Regions from separate parts of the Homo sapiens genome. Here region 2 is linked to region 1. The links come from fine-mapping of genetic effects on gene expression. Tissue or cell type: whole blood. Region 1 holds a variant in brackets; the other region holds the start of a gene. All regions are shown on one strand. Distances are between the middles of the regions.

Region 1 (8,105 bases):
GAGCTGTTACTTGTGATTTTGGAATCCTTGTCACTAAGGCTGACTGCACCACAGCACTGCTCAGGCCACCCATAATGGTGGAACTGACACCAATGAGAAATCAAGATGAGGGTCTGAAGGTCATAGTACTGTAGAGGAACCCTGAAATGCCCAATTCCTGTCCTACCACACATCACATCTCTACTCACAGGGTCCCAACAGCTATGAACAGGAAAACACTACCTAAATGAGAAACAAATGCCACTTTATTCATAACTGAGGCAGTACTCTATAATCCATAGGCAGGGATCTGATAAAAACTGAACTGAGTCTCTCGCAAGGGTGGAAGCCAAAGACCAGGTTGAGGAGAGGCTGGTCAGACTTTGGCACTGCACATGGGAGGTAGTATCTTCTTGGGATATTTGTATTACTCCAGAAAGGTGAGAAAAGCAGCTGGTGTGCAATAAGAAAAGCAAGGCCAAGAGCCCAGGCAGGCTCAACAAGTGGCTGCCTGCATTCTGGTCCCAGTGTCAGGCCTTCTGAAGACAACATACTGCTTTTTTTTTTTTTTTTTGAGATGGAATCTCGCTGTCAACAGGCTGGAGTGCAGTGGTGCGATCTCAGCTCACTGCAACCTCCGCCTCCCAGATTCAAGCGATTCTCCTGCCTCAGCCTCCCAAGTAGCTGGGACTACAGGTGCGCGGTGCCATGCCCAGCTAATTTTTGTATTTTTAATAGAGACAGGGTTTCACCATGCTGGCCAAGACGGTCTCGATCTCTTGACCTTGTGATCCGCCCCTCGGCCTCCCAAAGTGCAGGGAGTACAGGCGTGAGCCACCGCTCCTGGCCCATACTCTCTGCTTTAATTCTGAGCTACCAATACACGTTTTTTATAAACACCCACTTTTGATTTAAGCTCACTTGTGTTTGTTGCCTGCAACCAAGAGACCACTGAGGAAACTGGTTCAGCATCAATCATGTCGTCCTGACTGCATTCCCAGCATTAGAATAGCACTGGCCACAGTTGGTGGGTAATCCACACTTGCTGAAGGAATGAGGGGTATGTGCACTGGTCCTAAAGAATAGGTCCAGTCTGTTTAATTCAGAAGTTACAATCAAATTTATATCATACTTACCCAGTACGCAGTAGTACCCAAAGGGCTACTGTGAATCCCAAAGTGAATATGGAGATTTGCTGAAACTAACCTTAAAGCGACCACTAAAGCTGTGCCTAATAGCAACATGAAAGAAATATAAATCTACATTAACTAGTTTCAGGAAATCAAGCTTATGGAAGCTCTATGTGAAATTTCACAGCAATCTTTCACTCATGCAAATACAGAGGAACACCTCTTGAAAATGCAGATAGTAGGCCGGGGACCGTGGCTCACACCTGTAATCCCAGCACTTTGGGAGGCTGAGGCAGGCGGATCACAAGGTCAGGAGATGGAGACCATCCTGGCTAACACGGTGAAACCCTGTCTCCACTGAAAACACAAAAAATTAGCCAGACATGGTGGCAGGCGCCTTTAGTCCCAGCTACTCGGGAGGCTGAGGCAGGAGAATGGCATGAACCTGGGAGGCGGAGCTTGCAGTGAGCCGAGATCGAGCCACTGCACTCCAGCCTGGGTGACACAGCAAGACTCCGTCTCAAAAAAAAAAAAAAAAAAGAAAACGCAGATAGTTTCCTTCAAGAAAATATTTATTGCATATTATTAGTGATTATGTTTTACAGCAAATTTAAATACATACACTTTTCACAAACCCAAAATGGGAATCAGGGCAACTATCAAATTTAAATGTTGAACCAAGTCCTGGTTTTCAGAATTCAGCAGCCAGTCATGGTTCTGTACCAGGGCCACCAGTCCATGATTTCCAATAGTTGAGGATCTTTTCTGTATTTGGAACAAAATCTTCTTTATATGTGACAACTGTTTCCACATAAAATCCTTTTGGGCGTTCAGAGAGTTCACTGGGTACTTCACTTGCTGAGCCATCCTTTTGGTCTACTTTATCACCATTAAGAGAAAAAAAAAAAAAGAACACCTGAATTATTAACTTAGAAAGCAGTCATTAAAGTCTTAGAAATTAACTAAGGTAAGAATTACATCCACTCTCTCCAACCCCAATAATGAAGGAAGGAATGAAAAGGAAGGGAAAAGAAAAGCTGGGTGCGGTGGCTCACGCCTGTAATCCCAATCTCACTTTGTGGGGGCCGAGGCAGGTGGACCACCTGAGGTCAGGTGTTTGAGACCAGCCTCGCCAACGTAGTGAAACCCCATCTCTACTAAAAATACAAAAATTAGCTGGGCGTGGTGGCATGGGCCTATAACCCCAGCTACTGGGGAGGATGAGGCAGGAGGACTGCTTGAGTTGGGAGATGGAGGTTACAGTGAGCCAAGATAGCGCCAGTGCACTCCAGCCTGGGCGACAGAGCTAGACTCTGTCTCAAAAAAAAAATAAAACAATTCGCCGGGCAGCAGTGGCCTGCGCCTGCAATCCCAGCTACTCGGGAGGCTGAGGCAGGAGAATCACTTGAGCCCGGAGACGCAGGTTGTGGTGAGCCGAGATCATGCCACTGCACTCAAGCCTGGGCGACAGGGTGAGACCTTGTCAAAAAGAAAAAAAAAAAGAACGAAAGAAAGAAAACATAAATATGGACATTAAAATATTTTTACTTTATATATAAATGTAAAGTATTTTTACCATATATTACATATAAAGTAAATATAAAATATTATATATAAAAATTTCTTTTTCTTTTGGTAGAGATGGGGGTCTCCCCATGTTGCCCAGGCTGGTCCCGAACCCCTGGGCTCAAGCAATCTCCCACCTCGGCCTCCCAAAGTTATGGGATTACAGGCGTGAGCCACTGCACCCGGCCAAAATGTTTTTAAATGCTTAATGCTGGACACATGTACTTTCAGGCCACTGACAGCTTCATCACCAAATGTAATCTTCAGCATAGTTTTTACACAACAACTTTACTGAGATATAATTAACATATACGATTAACCCACTTAAAATATACAATTTAATGTTTTTAGTATATTCAGATTTGTGCAACCAGCACCACAATCAATTTAAAAATACTTTCATCCACAAAAGGAATCCATACCTTTGGCAGTCATTCCCCAACTCCCCAACCCCTCAGCCCCTAGCAACCACACTAATCAACTTAATGTCTCTACAGATTTCCAGCATATTTTTCAAAGCTGAGAGACTTTTCTCCCTTTGCGCTTAGTAACTGGAAGATTTTAATACGCCTTGGCTGCTAAAAGTACTGAAATTGCTCGCCATATACGATGAGGGACAGTAGTACTGAAGCATCACTCTTTAAAAATCACCGGCCAGAGTCTCTGAAAGTCCACCTTGCACTTTACACAGATTCCTCCAATTCTGAATATGGGGACGGCCCTATCCAGTAAATGATTCAGATTTAGGAAACAATATTTACAAGGTATTAATAATTCCTGGAGTCTAGTTCTTTGCAGATTCCATTATAACAAACGGCTGTTAGCACCCGTTTCAATTAGTTTTGCAGAATAAACCTGGGATTTAAAGGAC[AG/G]GGAAGTTGTTTCCATGACCCCCGGGGAACTCTCATCGAAGGCCGTGTGTTCCGGGGCAGGCCCCGCCGAAGAGCCCTACCTGACGACTTCGCCATTGTCCGGCTATAGTAAAGCAGTGAGCCCAACACAGACCAGGTGCCGATCCCGTAGACCACCGACATCCGCCGGTACCAGGCCGTGAACTCATTTCGATACATGGGTACGCCAGCGAGTGCCTCGATTCTCGCAGGCCCACGGCAGAGGCGGGACTTCCGGTGAGGGCGTCGCTGCGGTCCCTGCCGCCGGAACCATTAAGGAGCCGCCAGTTTTCAGCGTCCGCTTCCGGCTCTGCCCCGATGCACCTTGGGGCCTCTGGCCCGGAAAGTCGCTCAGGTGTCCGGACTTTCGGGTGTAGAACTGTGGGCGTGCGATACTTTTTACCACGTGACGAGGACTAAATGACAACTTAGAGGAGAAGCTTCTCACTTGCAAAATTGTAATGCCTTCGTGGGCTCCAGACGGTATCCGAAAAGGTTACTTCCAATTCCTCTTCCAGTTTTCAGATTTGCAGGGATACCGCTTGTCTCTCCCCGCAACTCTTCTTTTCCTCCATTTTTCTTTCCGGAACTCTGGGTGAACTTTAAATACTTCCAGGCCAAAGCTAATCCCTCCACTAGGCTCTGGGTACTATTTTTTCCAGCCTCAGTGGCCTTTCCCCTCATTGACACCCTAAGTCCTCCCCCATCTTCATTATTGACGTTTATCCTTCATACAAACGTGCCCATGTCTCAAAAACAAAAAATCTCCTTCGACTCCGACCACCTCCAGCTTTTGTCTTATGCATACATTTTTTAAAGCAAGATGCCCTCAATAGACTGAACAACTTAAGAGCAAGTGTGATGTGCTTGGCACAAGGTAGGCCCGGTAAATTAACGTTAAGTACTTTTCAGCCACACTCAAACTTGGTTTCGAAAGCATTTGCCACCACTGACCCCACCTGCACCTTTCATGGCTTCAGAAACATCATTTTCCCTGGTATCCTTCAGGGTTCTTTTCACCTTGCCCACCCTTTAAAAACTGATGTTCTGCCCTACAGAAATAGATAAAAAACTTAACTCTGAATGGATCGCTGACTTAAATGTAAAAGCTAAAACTATTTAATATAAGCCTAGAAAAAAACCAGGAGAATATGTTTGCCATCTTGGAATAAGCACAGAATTCTTAGAATAAAAAAGGCATCCCAAGCGGGGTGGCTCATGCCTGTAACCCCAGCACTTTGGGAGGTAGAGCAGGGAGGATTGCTTGAACCCAAGAGTTCCAGACCAGCAAGGCCAACATAGTGAGACCCCATCTCATTTTATATATATATGCATAAAGCGAAAATGGATAAATAGGGCTTTTAAAAAAAAATTAAAATTTTTGCTCTTTGAAGGTCACAGTTGAGAAAATGAAAAGCCAAGCCACAGAATAAAATATTCATAATAACATATATCTAACAAAAGGACTTGGATCCAGAATATATGAGGACGCTTTACAACTCAGTTATAAAAATACAGCCCAACTAAAAACCAGGCAATAAATTTGAATAGAACGAAAGAAGATATACAAATGACCAATAAGCACAGTAGCATCATTAGTCATCACAGAAATGGACATTAAAAGAATACAATAAGAGACCATTACACACCTACTAGAATGGCTAAAATCAGATTGAGAATGCCAAGAGCTGTAAGGATTTGGAATAATTGGAACTGTTATTGATGGGAACATAAAATGTTACAATCTCTTTGCAAAACTTAGTTTTTAAAAAGTTGAACATATGCCTACCATATAACCCAGGCATTCCGTTTCTAGTTATCCATGAGAAATGAAAACCTGTGTCTGCACACAGCCATGTACATGAATGTTCATAGTTTTATTCTTAATAGGAAAAAATAGAAACCACCCCCAATACCCATCGAGTAAATGGCTAAACAAAACGTGGGATACCACTTACAAATAAAAAGGAACTACTGGCTGGGTACGGGTGGCTCACACCTGTAATCCCAGCACTTTGGGAGGCCAAGATGGGTGGGTCACCTCAAGTCAGGAGATCGAGACCAGCCTGGCCAACATGGTGAAACCTCGTCTCCACTAAAAATACAAAAATTAGCCGGGCATGGTGGCGGGCGCCTGTAATCCCAGCTATTCCAGAGGCTGAGACAGGAGAATTACTTGAATCCAGGAGGCGGAGGTTGTGGTGAGCCGAGATTACACCACTGCACTCCAGCCTGGGTGACAGAGTGAGACTCCTTCTCAAAAAAAAAAAAAAAAAAAAAAAAAAAGAACTACTGATAAATACAACCATACGATGAATCTCAAAATGGATTATGCTAAGTGAAAAAGCAAGCTAGACACCAAAGAAACCAGTCACGAAATTCTAGAAGCAAACTCCAGTGGGAGAAAGCTGATGAGTAGTTGTCTGCAGTAAGGGCATGGAGAGAGGGAAGGGCTAAAAGGGTCTGAGGAGACTTTGAGAGGTGATGGTAATGTTCTGTATGTTGATTATTGTGGTGGTTTCTGTCAAGATTTATCCAATTGTATGCTTTAAATGGGTGCAGTTTATTATATGTGAACTATAGCTCAATAGTTATAGACAAAACAGAAAAATTGGTATTGTTTCAAGCTTGCGTCTCTTCTCATCCTTCTCATCAGCCTTACTCATGATACCTATGTTATATGTTAATAACTCTCAAATCTACTCCAGATTCTCTGAAAGCAAATTCATGTTACTGCCAACCTGCTATGCATCCTCGGCTGCATATTCCACAAGCTCCTGAAACTAAAAAAATGTTCCGAATTGAATTTATCAATGCCACTCCCAACAGGAAACAAACCTTCCCTTTCTCTTCCCTGATTCAGAGAGTGATTGAGAAATTGCCCAAGCCAGGAACTTGGAATCATCTCACCTGACATCCTCTGTCACCTCTGTCTAAATACCCTGTCTCTGTTTAGGCCTCATTTCTCACTTGGATTACAGTCTCCTCTCATCCTTCCCCCTCTGGAGTGTCTTTCAAACCTTAAATTATCATTTCACCCTCTGCCTAAGATAAGTCAGAGGCTTGCCCTACCTTCAAGATGGAGTTCAATACCCACAAAAATTAACAATTAATAAAAAGATGGAGTTCAGAGTCCTCACTGGGCATACTGGGCTCAGTGGCCCCTTCTCATGATAGCTGTTTTCCACACAGCACTATCACCCTGCCACCCCCTACATTCTGTGGAAAAACGTCACTGGTACCCTAAGGTGGGACCTGCATGGCCATGTCATACCATGCAGTTCCCTCAGCTCCTTAACTCACTGACACTAGAGAGAACCGCAGAGTTAGCTGGGTCTATCACACAGTCTTTTTTCTGTTAATTTGAAACAGAAAAGCCAAAGAGGATGTTTTGGCCTTAATCTGTACAGACAACTTTATGTATTCTTCTATATGATGTGTTAAAAATTATATCCAAAACTAAAAATATTCTTGGAAAACGCACAGAAAAATGTAAATGTTCAACTTTTTTTTTTTTTTTTTTTTTTGAGATGAAGTCTCCCTCTGTCACCCAGGCTGGAGTATAGTGGCGTGACCTCAGCTCACTGCAACCTCCACCTCCGAGGTTCAAGTGATTCTCCTGCCTCAGCTTCCCAAGTAGCTGGGATTACAGGTGCCCACCACCACTCCTGGCTAATTTTTTAATATTTTTAGTAGAGATGGGGTTTCACCATGTTGGCCAGGCTGGTTTTGAACTCCTGACCTCAAGTGATCTGCCCACCTCAGCCTCCCAAAGTGCTAGGATTACAGGTGTGAGCCACCGCACCTGGCCAATGTTCAACATTTTAAGATAGGAAACTCTGCTAGAATTCTGCTAGAATGTAGGGCAGAGACAAAAAGAAATACAATAACTTGTATTCGAATACAAATTCAAAACAGAGTATTGCAATCAATCCAGCTGTTCCAACATCCAATTAATAGGAGCTTCCAGCTTCATTTTCCTACATAGCACTCATTACCTTCTAATGTATCATTTACTTCATTTCTTTTTTGTTTTTTATTTTTTTGAGACGGAGTCTCGTTCTGTTGCCCAGGCTGGAGTGCAGTGGCACAATCTCACTGCAACCTCCATCTCCTGGGTTCAAACAATTTGTCCCTGCCTCAGCCTCCCAAGTAGCTGGGATTACAGGTGTGCACCACCATGCCTGGCTAATTTTTGTATTTTTAATAGAGAAAGGGTTTCGCCATGTTGGCCAGGCTGGTCTCAAACTCCTGACCTCAGGTGATCCGCCCACTTCGGCCTCCCAAAGTGCTGGGATTACAGGCATGAGCCACCACGCCCGGCCATATCATTTACTTCTAACATTGTTATTGTTGGTCTTCCCTAACTAACACATAAGCTCTATGAAAACAGGAATTTTTGTTTTATTGGCAGTATTCCCAATGCCTAGAAGACTACTCCATAGACAACAAGTACCGGATAGTTATTTGTTGAACGAATGAAAGAATGACTCCAAAGTTCTGAGATTATCTTGGGCCTATACTTTTTAGACCCAGTGGG
Region 2 (8,105 bases), 60 kb after region 1:
AAAAATTACACTTAACAAATTGTTAACAGTTAAAATTTCTTCTGCCTGCTACTTCTCCTTGCCATATAGCATCACTGTACCCGGGAAGCATGAGAAGACGGTCTAAGCTTTCGAATTCTTCTGGGAAATTACTTTAAGAGGAATCAATAAAGTCTACAGTTAAGCCAAAAGCAAACTGATTATCAGCCAAAAAAAAAGTGAATTACAAATCCTCTCCCTCTACCTCTACCTCATTCCTGTAAGATTCCAATTTTATCTGGAATTATCAGGCCAGGGAGATTTCTACAAATATTCACCACTTACTACTCACCACAAGAATCGTTTAGGAGTCTCATCATCTACTACTTATCACAAATTTGATGACCTGCCCAAATTTAATGACTTTTATGAGCATCACATAAAATTCATAATATATTGTATTTATCATTTTTACCAGTTTCAAAAGAATCCATACCAAAGTGGGTTGAGAACAGCTTTACAAGTTGGCCTGCTGCAAAGCACAGGTTCATATTGTACAGGAGGTAGGTCTGGACGTTCTTTCAAAGGAGTAAGGAGACAAGCCAGGGGTACAACCATTCTTGTAGCCTCCAGCCGGCTGGAAGGCCACACGTTCCAACTAAAACGCACACCATCCCGTTCTTCATTCTGCTGGATGAACTCCAGGTATGTCGCCATAGTCTAAAAGGGAACTGAAGATAAAACTTTAATTACCTTAATGGTATGTGAAATTCTGAACTAAATGTCAAAAAAAGAAGATGGGTCATGTAACACAGTGTTTCTCTTTTTTTCCCATCTCAGCTCACTGCAGCCTCCACCTCCCGGGTTCAAGCGATTCTCCTGCCACAGCCTCCCAAGTAGCTGGGATTACAAGCCTGTGCCACCAAGCCCGGCTAATTTTTTGTATTTTTAGTAGAGGCAGGGTTTCACCATGTTGGCCAGGCTGGTCTCAAACTCCTGACCTCAGGTGATCCACCCGCCTTGGCCTTCCAAAGTGCTGGGATTACAGGCGTGACCCACTGTACCCGGCCCAACTAACACAGTGTTTCTTAAATACTTGGGAAGAACCTGTTGCTGTAGAATGACAGTATTTCTTTTCCATCTGATACCCAAAAGTCAGTTAACCGCACAGTTATCATTGATCACTGCTCCTTTCTCACCTCTCCTTTCAAGCACTTAAAAATAAATCAAAGGAGTGGGAGGTTTACAATCACCTGATCATCTCCAAACTACATGTAGTTAAACACTACTACTTCAAACCTCCTCACAGATCACACGTCCTATCAGTCAAGCCAATTTCAGCCCCTTGCTCAAGGGTAAGTCTTGAACCCTGTTTCGGCATCCAACTATCTTCCTCTCTAATCTCCTTCCTTTCTTCCTCTATTAAATTTTACATTCCAAGTGATTTTTTTTTCAGTAGCGGGGGGGTGCTCATTCCCTTCCGCACTTTGTTAACTTTGGAGAAAAGAGCTGGATACTGATCTTCAAGTTTGGTTCATAATGGGAACCAGTTTTGAGCTAAATTATTTCTACTTGGTATTACCAAAATTACTATTATGCTGAGTCTCACCAGAACCTCTTTCCTCACCACGGTTGCTTATGTTCATGCCTTGACAGGCTGTGGTCAAGGCCAGGTGTGGTGGCTCACACCTATACTCGCAGCACTTTGGGAGGCTGAGATGGGCGGATCACGAGGTCAGGAGTTCAAGACCAGCCTGGCCAACACAGTGAAACTCCGTCTCTACTAAAAATACAAAAATTAGCCAGGTGTGGTGGCACGTGCCCATAGTCCCAGCTACTCAGGAGGTTGAGGCAGGAGAATCGTCTGAACTCGGGAGGCAGAGATTGCAGTGAGGCGAGACAATGCCATTGCACAGCCTGGGCGACAGAGCCAGACTCTGTTTCAAAAAAAAAATGAAGACTGTGGTCAGTAAAACTGTCCTACAGGCTAAACTCTCAAACCCAGATGATCCCAACTTCATTGAGTATTTATACATCCTGTTCATATCCTAAAATCTAGGGTAACACACAACTCAGCTATTGGGGTTCAAGGGAACAAGCCCCTCAAGAAAAGTAGTAAAAAGGCAAATTAAAGAGTCTATCAAATTAAAGTGGCCTCTCGCGCCCACTTCCTGAATATGGATAACAACTGTCTGTTATTTTGGGAAGTACCATACTGTAAATAATTTTGATTAAGGCAATAATATTGCATGGCTAGAAAAGCAAATGAATTACTCTACTACATAAAGCCCAGAACACAAGAATTCCAATGTTTGCTCCAACTGAAACTCTAAGAAATCTGTTTATTTCTGGCAACGGCAAGAACCTGAAGCACTGTGTGCACAGGAAGCACTCTGGAGCTTCATGGGAAGCAAAGGGATAACTAAAGTCGGAATGAAAGCAAGTTCTATCACAACTCTCAGCAAGTATGTCAGCAGATTTCATTAAATAACCGTCTCTCTCTCAAAACGTTCTTTATTAAAAGGCACTGGCGGCCGGGCGCGGTGGCTCACGCCTGTAATCCCAGCACTTTGGGCGACCGAGGCCGGTGGATGACCTGAGGTCAGGAATTCAAGACCAGCCTGGCCAACATGGCAAAACCCCGTCTCTACTAAAAATACAAAAATTAGCTGGGCGTGGTGGCAGGTGCCTGTAATCCCAGCTACTCGGGAGGCTGCGGCAGGGAGGACTGCTTGACCTTGGGAGGCATTGGTTGCAGTGAGCCGAGATCACGCCACTGCACTCCAGCCTGGGCGACAGAGCGAGACTCCATCTCAAAAAAAAAAAAAAAAAAAAAGAAGCTACTGCCTCCATCTAATGGTTTCCAAGCATGTACAGCCTAAGACCTGCTCCCTCCTTTTCCTACTGCCTGTTTCCCTCACCCTTCTAGGGTCTGGATTCTTAGCAGTGGACACATAATCCAAGGGGACTATAGAAGGTCCACTAATCATCTGAAGTTATGCGCATGAGGGAATATGCCGTTTTTCTAGGGAGATGGGTCCATAGCTTTTACCAAAGTATCGGGGAAGGTATCTGAAGAGGTAAATAACTGAAAGTATGAATTAGTGAATGAATGAAAGGCCTGGAAAGATAACAGGAGAATATGCCAAAAAATCTGAACCACCCTTATCGCGCCAACTCGTAACTTCTCAGGACACAGTGACCATGTGTATGTAAGAATAAGTGAGGTTTAATCCTTGAAGGGAGTCCAAGGACCTGGGTTCCAGTTCCAGCTGTCATGAAGCAAAAGTCGTTTCACTTGTCTGAGTCTTGAGTTTCTCAACTATAAAACGGGACTTGGGTCCTTCCAGGTGTGCGCACTCCGCAATTCTGGGGAAACTGGAGCCAGAAATCGGTCCCGGCCTGGTGCGGGACGACATCCGCAGGGGACTCCCGGATCATCCATTCCCCCGCTACCCTAAACTGTCAAGAAAAGGCCTCCTCCCAGAAGCCGCTCACCTCGCCCCCGGCAGAAACTCATACCCGTGCCCTCGGCCCTCCGTCACCTATGCGCCCCGCTCACCTGGCCGGAGCCGCTCACCTAGCTAGAGCCGTCCTCACCCACAGCTGCAACAAGCAGGCTCCGGCTCCCACCGCCAAGTCCAGCTCAGCTCTCAACCGATTGGCCAGCGCCCCAGCGCGTCATGCCACGGCGCTGTCCACTGGCCAATCAAAGAGCGCTTCTCCGACGGACTGGAGGAAGCGAGAGACTCAGAGAAGCTCTGCCACCATCTTGGAACAGGGCAAGACAGGTGTATGTCGCACTTCAAAACGAGAGTTCCTCGGAACACGTTTCCCCACCCCTAAACGTTTCTGTTTCAGAAAACCCCGGCGCCTGCCGCACCGTTGCCTAAGCGCAGCCAGCGCTCCTCAGAGGTTCGCCCTGATACAATATGACATCCGCTCGTCTCAGTGGGAAGTCCCGCTGATCGCCTTAGCTACCGGAAAGCGAGAACGATGACGTATGCTCGCGGAACAGGGAGCTGCACTGGTTGGAAGAAACTAAGGCTGCCGGAAGAAGGCATTAGCATGCGGAAGGGGCGGGGCGGGTGGTGAGCGCGGCGGCGCTTACGCACTTGCTGGTTTGGGAGTCGGTCTCTGTGGTTAAGTTTGAAGTACAGAGGTGTGGTGGTGCTTCACGTTACAAGCTCTCCTACCGTCGCTTGCTGTAATGTCTTGGCGCTCTCAGCGGAGGCTGGCACTAGCGCACAGTCCCTGTCATCCTTCTACATGGAGATAAATAATTGAGAACTGTAATATTCAACCATTTTAGGAGAGTAAGCTTAGAAATACATGGAACATAACTTTCTTTTAAAAAATAATTCCAACGTTTAGATTTAGGGGGTACACTGCGTATTTGTTACCTGGCTATGAGGTTTCGAATTCGAATGAGCTGGTCACCCAGATACTGAGCATAGTACCCAAGTTTTTCAGCCCCTCCCTGCCTCCCTCCCCACTCTAGTAGTCCCCAGCGTCTATTAATGTCACCTTTGTGTCCATGTGTGCCCAATGCTTAGCTCCCACTTTCAAGTGAGAACATGTATTTGGTTTTCTGCTTCTGCGTTAATTCTTTTAGGATCATGGCCTCCAGATGCATCCATGTTGCTGCAAAAGGCGCGATAGAACACAACTGTATAAAGCCACCACAACCATTTTTACACACGCTGACAAGTGGCAAACATGAACACATCATTACTGTGACTCAGAGTTGTAGTCTCTGTAGCATATAAAAATAAGCAAAACGATGTAAACATAAAATTATGCAAGAACATATCTAGGCATCCAAGAAGTATCCATTAATTAGCTCAATTTAATACTAAGTTTTAAGTTATCTACAGATCATAGAAATTATTAATAGTTTAAGGCACAAAGAAACAATTACTGTTAAATGTGAGAATGATTCAGTTTTGTTGAACAAATTCACATTTTTCAGGATCTTAAACAATGTAATGTTAATATTAGCTTATCAATAGTAAACTTTTATAAATTTAGGAAGTTCAGATTAATTATTCTCGGTAAGGAAACAAACTCAAAATGTACACATGTATAATACTTAACACTGAGAAAAGACATAGCTGGGATTTTTTTTAACCAAAACTTAATATTATTCGCCAAAGATTTGCCTTGATTATTTGAACCTGGATTCTTTCTGTACTAGCAATTTCTGTAAGAAAGATTGTTATAGGACCATCAGGTTCGATTGTCCATTGTGCGGTAACAGAAAGAATAGGAGTTGCAGCAGATAAAGAGTTCCATAATCAAGTGGCAGCCAAATGAGGAGACAAGAGCAATCCTCAAATCCACCTCCCCAAGAGATTAGAGATGGCATTTTTAAGAAGTCTGGAGGGGCAATGGGCTAAAGTGTGGGGATTTCTGATTGGTCAGGAAGTGAGAGGTGAAGTCATGGGACAGGGAGATGAAGAAACTTCATTCCAGTGTTGTTTCTTGGTGGAGGTCTTTATTTATTTATTTAAAAAAATTTTTTTTTTGTAAAGCAGGGTCTCACTTTGTTGCCCAGGCTAGTCTCAAACTCCGGGCTTCAGGCGATCCTCTCACCTTGGCCTCCCAAAGTGCTAAGATTACAGGCGTGAGCCACTGTGCCCTTCCTGGTGGGGATCCCTAGACAGTTTGGCATCAGCTGTTTTGTGGGAATTCAGGATCTGAAAAATACCTTAAGCAATTCCTGGGTACAAAGAGCTAGTGTCAGAGATTCTGTGGATAGGAGCAATCAGGGAGTAGGTGATCAGTGTGCTGCAAGGCTTTTGGTTAGTTAGCAGCTGCAGGGAAGTGAATTGAAGGGCACCAATGCACCCTGGTCAGTGCCTAACTAACCTGCCTAAAGGCTGGCTTGTAATCTTGTTAACCCTGTCAGGATGGTTTCAGCATTTTTAAGAAATTTTGCATGCATAAGTTTAATTTACTTATTTTCTGGAATTTTAGAAATAATTGATTTACATGTGTTTGTTTCCATAAGTGAATTATAACAGAGCTCCTTTAAGACATGAAATAATATAACTTATTAAAACTTTACAAAGGTAGTAAGATTTTTTTACTCCCACAACAAGAGGGGAAGGCCTTTGTTGATTACAGCCGGGAAGACACATAGACACATAGCATATAGCTTTGGTTCTGCAACTTTGGCCACAGGTCGAAAGTAAATTCAGAAACATAAAAATTCAGTGGACTAGATAACAAAAAGCTGTTCTCCTTCCCAATGGGCATGGAAGTCTTAACTGATTTGAACTCATAAGTAGACAAAAAGGCAAACAAACAAAAAGACTAACAAACCAGATTTTTCATCATCTCTTATCCAAAAGAGAATAGATCTCTAAAAACTATTAATTCACTTAAAGAGATCACCAAATGTTCAGAATGTAAAACCTAGTTCCTAATTTTTTTTTTTTTTTCTGAATGAGGCAATGTATTAACCCAGCATGGTTTGTTCCAATGCTTCTTGTTGGCAGCTGCCACCTGTCCGGCAATTCTGCCCAGATCTCTCTGTCCCTGAGGTGTCAGTTTGCGGCCCCCATCTTGGTCCTTTTCCACCATTTTCAGCCCCTCCAGGGCTTGGAGGACCCGGCGGAGGACACTCTTGAAGCCTCGGCCGAAGTGGCTGGGCATGACGCCGTTTCTCTGACGTCCCCATAGATCTTGGTCATGGAGCCAACCCCAGCGCCACCCTGGAGGTACAGGTGCCGCGCTGTGGAACCGGCTCGTGTGTAGAACCAGTTCTCAACGTAGGGAGGAAGCTCTTTGTGCTTGGCCAGCTTGACGGTGTCCACCCATTCGGGGACTTTCAGCTTCCCGGACTTTTTGAGAAAGGCTGCCAGAGCTCTGACGAAGTCCCGCTGGTTCACGTGGTTTACAGGAACTCCAGGCATCGTGCGGCTTCCGCGCTGCCAGCCAGGGGAAAGGGAGCAACGGGGTTTCCCGCGAGTTCCTAATTGGTGTCGCCATTCATGGGGAAAAATCCGCCAGCTGTGGGCGAATCAGAAACAAAACCCAAAATCAGTAAGGAGGAGAAAGAAACCTAGGGAGAAAGTCAGCAACGCTGTAGTACTATTGCTACTTGGTATTCACTCCCGGAGCCAGGAAAAAATGTGCTTGGGCTTAGCCCCATGGGGTGTTCTTCAGTAATGTGGTTTACCTGGTTCTGTCAGGTGAATCCATTGGGATGTTGGTGAAAGCTTCAAAACTGTTAAAGTGTTTCAAAAGGTAAAATTATGGCCTTCATGCAAATATAAAATGAACATGTGCCAAAGATCTTACTTAACTCATTCATTGATTTTAATTAATCCCTACGACCAGGAGGGATGTTCAGACTGGTTCTAAGGAGAATTTGATTTATAGTGACATATTCTCTATCACACAAAATTGATTTGCATTGCTGTGGACAGGAATAGTTTTCATTGTTGTGGGCAGGGAACATTTGCATTACTATCTTCTATAAGTTAATTTCTATCTCTACAGAGTTGTAAAATAGCATACTCAAAGGCAGAGGTACATCCCTCCTACGGCAAATGACCCAGGGGATTTTTTGTTTTTGAAACGAAGTCTCGCTCTGTCGCCAGGCTGGAGTGCAGTGGCGCGATCTCAGTTCACTGCAACCTCCACATCCCGGCTTCAAGCGATTCTCCTGCCTCAGCCTCCCGAGTAGCTGGGACTATAGGTGCACACGACCATGCCTAGCTAATTTTTGTAATTTTAGTAGAGACAGGGTTTCACCATGTTGCCCAGAATGGTCTCGATCTCTTGACCTCATGATCTGCCCGCCTCGGCCTCCCAAAGTGCTGGGATTACAGGCATGAGCCACCACTCCCGGCCCCCAGAGAGTCTTTTAAAAATGCACAGCACTCCACAGAAAGTTCACCCAGTAACCTCTTTTGACTATTTCAAAATCTTTCATAATTTTTCTGACATATTATCATCATCTGTAGCCTGAGTCTAAATTCTTTTATTTATTTTATTTTATTATTATTATTTTGAGATGGAGTCTCTCTCTGTTGCCCAAGCTGGAGTGCAGTGGCACGATCTTGGCTCACTGCAACCTCTGCCCCTGGGTTCAAGCGATTCTCCTGCCTCAGTCTCGTGAGTGGCTGGGATTACAG

What was found. PIP is the estimated chance that this variant, and not a neighbour inherited with it, causes the effect.
Region 2: SEC23B starts here. The variant in region 1 is fine-mapped to the expression of SEC23B in whole blood (TOPMed, PIP 0.99).

What each region holds. Positions count from the first base shown.
Region 1 is chr20:18,563,119-18,571,223 of GRCh38, reverse strand. It overlaps SMIM26 (small integral membrane protein 26), which reads right to left and starts at 3,792. Exons shown (of 2, transcript NM_001348957.2): 1 at 3,628-3,792; 2 at 1,664-1,988. The coding sequence starts at 3,745. The coding sequence ends at 1,819. RefSeq lists a silencer at 3,659-3,941 and an enhancer at 4,005-4,104. The variant AG/G (reference allele first, on the strand shown) is at 3,547.
Region 2 is chr20:18,503,406-18,511,510 of GRCh38, reverse strand. It overlaps SEC23B (SEC23 homolog B, COPII component), which reads right to left and starts at 3,571. Exons shown (of 20, transcript NM_006363.6): 1 at 3,539-3,571; 2 at 455-689. The coding sequence starts at 675. It also overlaps the pseudogene RPS19P1. RefSeq lists enhancers at 3,301-3,350, 3,701-4,030.